2 linked regions of the Homo sapiens genome follow. The protein of the gene in region 2 purifies or fractionates together with the protein of the main gene of each other region. This does not show direct contact. Each region holds a gene or a part of one and is shown on either strand. Other genes may lie near its edges.

What was found. The genes of interacting proteins can lie anywhere in the genome.
Region 1: the proteins of DLGAP2 (region 2) and USO1 purify together in Homo sapiens (affinity purification with mass spectrometry, with the first as the bait; one large-scale study listed by BioGRID). This does not show direct contact.

What each region holds. Positions count from the first base shown.
Region 1 is NC_000004.12:75,800,037-75,804,674, reverse strand, and holds part of USO1 (general vesicular transport factor p115), read right to left. Parts: intron 4,325-4,638; coding exon 4,206-4,324; intron 4,058-4,205; coding exon 3,876-4,057; intron 3,597-3,875; coding exon 3,475-3,596; intron 542-3,474; coding exon 403-541; intron 1-402. UniProt on the Homo sapiens protein: General vesicular transport factor required for intercisternal transport in the Golgi stack; it is required for transcytotic fusion and/or subsequent binding of the vesicles to the target membrane.
Region 2 is NC_000008.11:1,670,814-1,676,118, reverse strand, and holds part of DLGAP2 (disks large-associated protein 2), read right to left. Parts: intron 305-5,305; exon of another isoform or gene 1-304.

The DNA of each region.
Region 1 (4,638 bases), on a different chromosome or scaffold from region 2:
TCATTCTTAATCAGCTATACATTAGAATCACCTGGTGGGCTTATACTAGTTACTGATCCCTGGACCTAATCCCAGATTTATTAAATCAGAAACACTATTGTGGTATCAGCATTGGTATTTTTTTTTAAAAAAGCATCTCAGGAGATTCTAATATGCAGCCAGGGTTGAGAATCAATGGGCCAGATAAACAGGTAGCAAGAAGCTTGGACTTCAATCTCTAAAGGTCCAGTCTTAACTGCTCTTAACTATCATGCTATTTTGCTTTAAACTCCGATTTACATTTTTGTCACCATGATTAAGGTTAGAAAAATACTAGTCCACAGAAAGAATCTTTTACTTTGTCTAGCTCTTGAGGAAAGAATGACCTGAGTGCTATCATAGTGATGGCTTAGCTATGCTTACCTAGCTGTATTTTAAGAAGATTATACTGGTCTTTGTGCTGCTGGATCTGTGATACTTGCTGTGTGACTGCCGTCTGGAGCTGTTCATTTTGACATTTTAATGTAGAAACCTGCTGCCTTAATTCCTCAAGTTGGAGATCCTGTGAAACAAAACATAATTCATGTGTTTTAAAGTCATACTCGTTAGCATTAAGAAGGTGAACACATTTTAAAAATTAGAGGTCATTTTGGGACAGTATGCTAAAGTGCTTAACACTTCCAAAATCGTTCAGTAATTAAGCAACTTGGTGTGTTAATATATCCATCAAGGCCAATTAACATGCAGCAGAACTACAAGATTTCAAAGAAGGCTCCATTAATAAACATCATGGCATAGCCTGCAATTATAGTGGGAAATAAAATGAAAAAACTCCATTTTATGGTCATAAAACCATTTAAAAATTTACATCAAACTATTTAAGAAATTTAGTATATGTATGTATACATATGCTTCTATATTATTTTTAATATTAAAAGCCAATGAGAAAATAAATATAGGAAATTGAAAAAAGAGCTTCCAACTTTTACCATCATAATAAAACTATAGTTGGAATTTGATGTATTTTTTTTCTTTTTTTTTTTTTTGAGACGGAGTTTCGCTCTTATCGCCCAGGCTGGAGTGCAGTGGTGCAATCCAGCTCACTGCAACCTCTGCCTCCAAGGTTCAAGCAATTCTCCTGCGTCAGCCTCCTGAGTAGCTGGGATTACAGGCGCCCGCTGCCATGCCCAGCTAATGTTTTTGTATTTTTAGTAGAGATGGGGTTTCACCATGTTGGCCAGGCTGGTCTCAAACTCCTGACCTCAGGTGATCCACCGGTCTCAGCCTCCCAAAGTGCTGGGATTACAGGCGTGAGCCACCGTGCCCGGCCAGAATTTTATGTATTTCTTTATTTTCTTCTAATTTTTTCCCAATCCATGGTTTAAAATTTGTCACAATAGGTATATATATATAATTATGTAGCCTTTAATTTACTTAACATTCTATCATAATTTCCCCATATTGCTACATAGTTTTCAAACCATAATTTTTAATCCTATCTAATTAAGTAGATGCAATACAATTTATATTCAATGTTTTTGATGCTAAGGTTGCTTTCCATTTTTTTTCTTTTCTTTCTTTCTTTTTTTCTTGGGTTTTTTTTTTTTTGAGACAGAGTTTCGCTCTTGTTGCCCAGGCTGGAGTGCAATGGTGCGATCTCGGCTCACTGTAACCTCCGCCTCCCAGGTTGTTCAAGCGATTCTCCTACCTCATCCTCCTGAGTAGCTGGGATTATAGGCATGTGCCACCATCCCCAGCTAATTTTTTGTATTTTTAGTAGAGACAGGGTTTCTCCATGTTGGTCAGATTGGTCTCGAACTCCCGACCTCAGGTAATCTGCCCACCTTGGCCTCCCAAAGTGCTGGGATTACAGGCATGAGGCACCGTGCTCAGCCACTGCACTCCAGCCTGGGCAACAAGAGCGAAACTGTCTCAAAAAAAAAAAAAAAAAAAAAAAAAGAAAAGAAAAAGAAAAATGGAAAGCAACCTCAGCATCAAAAACACTGAATATAAATTGTATTGCATCTACTTAATATTGCTTTCCATTTTTCAAAGTGACAAATTTCATTACATTATATATTTTAGTCCATATAATTGTTTTCCTGAATTTTGGAGAATTCCCTTAGGATGAATTATCAAATGTCATTCAAAGGATATAAACATTTTATAGTTCTAGATGCTTGTGGACTAATGCCAAATAGCATTTTAAATGGTAAGAATATTTAAAATGAACATTTCTAAGGAAGTCATTAGAGTAATTGTGTCAATCACTCTTTTCTTTTGCCAAATCAACTGTATTTGCAGCCCCAAGTATAGACTCTATATCACATTACAACTATTTGTTTTTTTCACTGTTCCAAAGATATTATTACATTTTAGCAACTGGAAATGGCTCCATCTTTGTACCCAGATATAGATGAAAAATCCTAATAACCATAGGTAGTTTGATGATTCAAATTTTACCATTCTAAGATTATAATTTATTGATTGATTTACTTTTAAACTGAAAAGCTTAGAATGAATGCTAAATATACCACAATATTTTCATTCTTTCTTAAAATTTTAATCTCAGTAGGCTGGGCGCGCTGGCTTATGCCTATAATCCCAGCATTTCGGAAGGCTGAGGCAGGGAAGGGAAGGGATCACCCGAGGTCAGGAGATCAACACCAGCCAACATGGTGAAACCTCATCTCTACTAAAAATATAAAAATTAGGCAGCGTGGTGGCACACGCCTATAATCCCAGCTACTTGCGAGGCTGAGGCAAGAGAATTGCTTGAACCTGGGAGGCGGAGGTTGCAGTGAGCCGAGACTGCGCCACTGCACTCCAGCCTGGGAAACAAGAGCAAGACTCTGTCTAAACAAAAAACAAACTAATCTCAGTAATGTAGATTGTGAGGAAGAAAATAAGATATAAACAGTTGTCAATTTAAAGGGTTCTATCTATGCTTTTACTTGCCACACCTGCCATAAACTGTGCACAATTAGTAGACAGGTGTGGAGAGCAGTAGAGGGAAGGGGATGAATCTGTCCCACAGGGTCTGCCACTATTGTATTTTTTTATGACACTGGAATTTTAACAACATTAATAACCTCATTTTTCAGCACTTTCTAGAATTCCAATCAAGGTAAATATCATAAGAAATTAAATGAGAGTAAAAGTCAAGAAAACATTTTGAAGGAATATAATGAAGGTTTAGGGTACTCAACACAATGCAAGTAATGAAAGTTCACTGGTATCCTGGAAAGAAAATGTCAACTGATGATTCCGCAATTGTAGTTTCATCTTTATCCACTCATCATTATCTAATAAATCAGCTGCATGGTGCTTAGCACATATTAAGCACTCTGTTTGTTGAATACTCAGATGCTTTGAAAAATGATGGGTTTTGCTTTCTATATCCTCTTTCATTTGAAATGTCAGAAAAAAAGGCTCCCTTAAAGCAGAAAGTGCCTATTGGTAATCAGAGGGTATATACAGTTCATTAGTACTTACCTGCTCTCGAATCATATTTTTGTAGTGAGTCACAATATTGTCATGCTGTTCTAATGTTTTTTTCACCTCTTCTTCTTTTTTATCTTCTTCACTGGACTTATAAATAGCCTTAGTTATAACACCTATAAAAGGAAGCTTATTTAAAATTTGTTTTAAATGTTTTAAATACTATTTTACTACTAAGACTTAGTAAAAACATATAACCTAACTCCATGATAGGTAAGAAATAATCTTTTCAATCCTACTGAAAGCCAAATGTCCTTCAATGGGCTACAGATCAAGAGCTAGGAAGAAAATATACCTTTAGAGTTACCATATAACCTGTATGCATCCAGAATATACATGTACAATATAAATATAATTACTTTCCATCAAATATCAATATAAATCTTCAGTCTTACCTTCAAGTTCTTTTACCAGCTTCGTAAACTCATGATCAAATATCATGTATTCTGGACTGGGAAAGTTTGGCTGGGGTTTCTGAGATGCTCTGGAATACAACTCATGTTTGCTAATAAATCCTAGTTTCTCTATGAAATTCTCTTTGCCAATCCTCTTCTCAATCAGTTGTTTTAGCTTCTCTCTACGGAGATAAGCATATTGAGATGCTTTAAAAAAAATAAAATCAAAACAAAACATAAAAGCTTGGTCTACATAATGCTTTGGCAAAAAAAAAAAAAAAGCATCATTATCTCTTGATGCCATTAGAAAACCATCTTCCCCTTACTTACTTCATGTAGCTCTCAAGTGAGTTATCATTGAAATAAATCGAAATGCCCAACAAAAGGGCACATAAGCCTTGGACCAACTGCTCTTCTTCTCCAAGATTTTCTGCAATTTGTCCTGTAAGCTGAAATCTTTGTTAAGGAGGCTAAGGATTGAAAATATCTAGTACATTTTGCAATTTGAATTTGACATACATTAATACTTCACATAAGAGTTCCCATAAGAAATTCCATATATAGGCTAGGTGTGGTGGCTCATGCCTGTAATCTCAGCACTTTGGGAGGCCAAGGTGGGTGGATCACCTGAGGTCAGGAGTTTGAGACCAGCCTGGCCAACATGTCTCTACTAAAAATACAAAATTAGCCGGGTTGTGGTTGCGCACACCTGTAATCCTAGCTACTCAGGAGGCTGAGTGAGGCAGGAGAATTGCTTGAACCT
Region 2 (5,305 bases):
GGCTGCATCCACGTACAGAAAGACACAGAAAGGAATTTCAGCACTGATCAGAAACAGAGGCAAACTCTCCACCTTCATCTCCATAGAGCTGTCTCACGTCTGCTAAGAGGATGGCCAGCAGGGTGACGTCAGATCAGAACAGAAATCATGTATTCCACAGAGAATTCTGATTGTGGCTGTATTTGCCAAAAAGTCCCCACAAACCCAACAAGCCTTGCAATGATCATCAGCTATGTGAAGTTATCCCACAAGGGAATTCTAGTACAGTACGTTCTCTAAAAAAAAAAAAACAAAACCAAACCAAGTAGGAAAACTGTGAAACCAAAGGTTAGTTAAGCCATTGATATGATTCCAGGCACTCAGTCATTCCTCTTTCCAGAAAAGTATTACCTATTGTATCAAAAGGACTTTTGAGCCCTCTCTGAAGTGTCATAGCTAAGTTATAAAATCTCTCCCTTCTTAAAAATATTACTGATCACTACAAGGAAAAGGTGCAAAGCATGAAATATTTCTGACCCTGTCCCCTGTGAGGCAAGAGAGAGGAGCTGCACGTTAACATTTGAGTTGCCCTTTGTGACTATCCTAAGGTTAAGCCTGTGTCAACGAGGACTGGCTCAGATTTGTGGCTAAGAGAGGTACTGATGGTAACAGCGAAGACTTATTTGGTGCGTACCCTGCGCCAGGCACTAGGCTGAGGTTCCAGCGTTATCACGTGTACTCCACACAATAACCCCAAGGATGTTTCCAGCCCCAGGAGAGAGCTGGCGGATCAGAGGAGGGGGGTGACTTGCTCAGGAGCGCGCCCTGGTTGGGGTCAGGGCTAGGGCTCTTGCCGGGATCTCTCTGACCCCAGAGCCGGGTGCCGCACAGAAGACAGAGCGCGAGAAAACCCTGGAGCTCTCGGCCGCCGCCGTGGATCCAGGGGAACGGACAGAGACGTCCACTTTCACCGGGTGTAATTCTGAAGACAGGCGCAGAAGCGGTCCCGAGACTGGGATGCGTGTTTGCAGAAGCTGACCCTAGACTGGGATGCGTGTTCTGATAGCTGGGTGAGACGGGCTACAGGAGGAAGAACATTCTTGAGTGAAGATCCTGGCCTTCCTGTCAGAATTTACCATTCCCGTTTCTAGTGTTAAGTGGGTCACGACTTTATTAAACCTTACCTTGCTCGACATAAACATGATCAGTGTTATTTTACGCAAAGGATTGTAATACAATTAATACATTTAAAATTCCATGTCTGTACATATGGAGCTGCCTCGTGTTTTAAGTGCAAAGGATTCCATTTTATGAGTATAGCCTAGTGCATTTAATGAGCCTTCAGTGCAGGGGAAATTTGGTTATTTCTAGTTTTCTGCCATTATAAATGATGCTGCTATATAAATACATGTCTGTACTTGTGTGAAAACTTCTCTGAATATATTCACCAGACGGGAGGTCTGGGTCAGAGGTATTTGCACTTTATAATTTTGGTAGATATTGCCAAATCTGATATGAGTGAAATAAATGAATACTTTTAAAGATATTTTGTAAAAGGAACACTCGTTTTTATCATAAAAATGTGGAGAATATTTGTCTCTCTCACTTATTCTATTTCTAGGAATCCAGCCTAAACAAAGGACCTTAAATTCTGACCAGTGTGTGAGGTGTTCATTGCAGCATTATTTATAAAGTAGCACCTGGGGAGAATGAGGGTGATACAGTGGGATAGGAATGTGCAGTAAGTCATGATTTACTTGTGACACGGAATACTACACAGCAGTGAAAACAATGGAGCTGGGCATGGTGGCTCATGCCTGTAATCCCAGCACTTTGGGAGGCTGTGGCAGGAGGATCACTTGAGCCTAGGCGTTAGAGACCAGCCTAGGCAACATGGCAAGACCCCATCTCTACAAAAAAAGAAATTAGCTGAGTGGTAGCACCTGTGGGACAAGCTACTCGGGAGGCTGAGGCAGGAGGATCACTTGAGCCCAGGACACTGAGGCTGCAGTTAGCTGTGATTGCACCACTGTACTACATCCTGGGCAATAAAGTGAGAGAGACCCTGTCTCTAAAAAATAAAGATGGTTCTAAAGATAACCTCAAGAATGCTTATAATACAGACTTTAAAGAACACAGGTTGACAGGTGCCATGGACAACAATGACCAGGGGCATGCACAAGCATAGAGACACTCGCAGTCACAGGCATGTTTGTGTACCATGAAAAAGAAAAATATAACAAAAGTAAAAGGAAGTTTTCCTTCCTTCCTCTGTCTCCAAATTTCCTCTAATATATTTTTGTTATTTTTTATAGTGAATTTGAAAAATACAGTTTTTGGAGCTGGTCAGATTCTGCTACTTGCTGGCCATGCAACTCTTAGGAAACTCTTTTAAATTTTGTTGAATCTTTGCTTCCTTGTTTCAAAGAGGGGACACCCAATGCCTCAGTTAACTGATGTAAAACTCTCAGCCTGAGGCCTGACTCAAGTAGGTTCGTCCACAGCAAATGCAAATTCCCTGTTCTCTCATCCCAGCTTTAAGGACGGTCACGTGAATAGTGGTATGTATATTACATTAAAGGCACACGCATATGATGAACTGTGCAGATTTTACCCTGGCTGTCTTTTATGAAATCTTTCTAAGTAAAATGAAGTTCTCCATTGCTGGATGGTAAAGTCTGAAGGGGACATGGTAAAATCATACTTGGCCAGGAGGAGCTAAGTATTTATCAATTTCAGAAATCCTGGGCATAGAGAGGCTTCATGTGAGACAGAAAAGCAAGTCTGGGACAAAGAAAATAAATTATTTTATACAATGGAAAGGTAACTCAAGAGTCTTTTCCAAAGGAAATTCTGACTAGAATTGCAGTGGGAGCACACTGGCTCACATCTATAATCCCAGTGCTCTGCAAGGCTGAGGGGGTAGGATCACTTGAGCCCACGAGTTTGAGGCTGGAGTGAGCTGTGATTGATTGCACCACTGCACTCCAGCCTGGGCAACACAGCAAGCCCTCATCTCTTAAAGTTTTGAAAAATATATGGGTGCAAGAAAAAAAGATGAATGAGCAAAATCACTGTCCCACCTCCCATGCAGTCCCAGGCTAGCAGCGGCGTCAAAGCCAACCAGCCTCCTCTGAGCCCAGCTTCTGTAGGGCTGCTGAGAAAATGAAAGTGGGCGGGGCTGGCAGCAGGAACCGCTCACTAGTAATACTGGGCCAGGGTGCCAATCTGTAATCTTTGCTCTCCCAACAAGCTCATTTTCCGCTCTTCCTTCAACACCTCACACATAGCAGGGCAGGTGCCCTGAATCTGATGCAAACTCCTGTTTATTTCCCTCTGAGACGTGCTCTGCCTCCCAGAGCTACAGGTGAGTGGCCGGCCCTGCCTGTGAGGCTTTGAGCTCTGGGGCAGCCATGAGGAAGAGCAGCTGCCTGTGAGGCTTGGAGCTCTGGGGCAGCCATGAGGAAGAGCAGCTGCCTGTGTGCCTGGAGAATCAGGCAGACACTTTTATCACAGGCAGGACATTCAGAATGGACAGCCGCAGAGTCTTTTCCAGGCTGCCCCTGCCTTCTCACAACCTGGTGAGATCACAGAATAGAAACTGATCTCCTTGGCTGGGCATGGAGGCTCATGCCTGTAATCCCAGCACTTGGGGAGGCTGAGACAGGTGGATCACCTGAGGTCAGGAGTTTGAGAGCAGCCTGGCTAACATGGTGAAACCCCATCTCTACTAAAAATACAAAAATTAGGCGTGGTGGCACATGTCTGTAATCCCAGCTGCTCGGGAGGCTGAGGCAGGAGAATCATTTGAACTCAGGAGGTGGAGGCGGAGGCTGCAGTGACCTGAGATCGTGCCACGCACTTCAGCCTGGGCAACAGAGTGAGACTCCATCTCAAAAAAAAAAAAAAAATTAAAAATAAAAAACAACAACAAAAAAACTGATCTCATTTATAAAGGTGGGATTCACAAGGCACCAGGGACAGAAGGACCCTGAATGTTAGACCAGGCCTCCGTCCCTCCTAACCGCAGTATCTGGGAGCTGTAAACATTTCCCAGAGTTCCCCAAACACACACATGCACACAAAAGAGAATGGAAAACTTAGCAGGAGAGACAAACCGCAAAGGATAAAAACGAAAGTGAATACACAAATGGTCCAATTGGAATGAAGAAAAGCGAGGTCAGGCCAGACCGGGTCAGAGGACGTCTCCGAGGTAGCTCAGCCATGCCCACAAGCTCTCCTCCTTATCCTAGGACTGGCCTATGAGTGCCAAGGCTGGAGCCCATTCTCTCCTACGGGCATCTGGCCTGCAAATCTGGAGCTGTGATGAGACCTGTCTGTGAGTCCTGCTGTAAGGGCCAGACTCAGGTGGCCGGGGCCAGACATCTGAGGAACAGGGGACTTGCCGCTGGCTTCTGCTCTAAGCTGGGCAGGGAAGGAGGACGGGGGCCATAGGAGGTGTGAGCTGAGGACCCTCACTCATTAGGGATCACGTTAGACGTAGCCCAGTAATTATAATGAGAATCCTGAATTCAAACCCTGATAGTAAAAGGTCATGCAATGCACTGTGAACAAGGGAGTTGCATTGTGGGACAGGACCCCCCACCCCGGGACAGGACCCTCCTGGAGCTGTCTCTCCATGAGCCAGTGACTCACAGAGGGCGTGAGCTCCACAGAAGATGTGTTCAGTGACGTGGACGCTGTTCATTTGTAGGAATGACATTCGCAGAACACAGATTCTCCTGCTATCTGCACTCAGACAAAACTGTGCCCAAAGGTCCCGGAAGCCAGTCCCATTGAATGCTGGTGGAACACGGGCTAGCCAGCTTTGTCTATGAGCTGCAGAACAGCGTGACACCTGCCCTGTGTCCCAGAACAGGAACAGAACCAGGGCAGGCTCCTGAGGGCACGGAATCATTCTGGGATTTTCTCCTCTTTGAGAAGCAGAGCAGAGAGGGGTGGAGTGGAGTGCAGGCTCCAGTCTCGGCCGCTGCCTTCACTCATGGCCTTGGCCGTGAGCCCTTAGGCAAGTCACTGACCCTCCCTGAGCCTCAGTTTTCCCATCCATAGTCTGGGCACAATTAACAACCAGCACACAGGGTTATTGTAAGGATTAAATGGTGCCTGGCAGGGACGTGGCCACCTGTCCACAGCCTGCTCACTCTTGTCCCAGCCTGTCACCTCCTGCCCTGGCAAGGCTGCCGTCTGCAGCTCCCCTCCTGACGCCTCCCTGAAAGAAGGAACCCGTCTTTCATCTGCTCGATTCCTTCTTTTCCTCCCCTTTACTCCTGCAGTGGCTTCAATTCTTTGGCTGTTTTCCTTATCC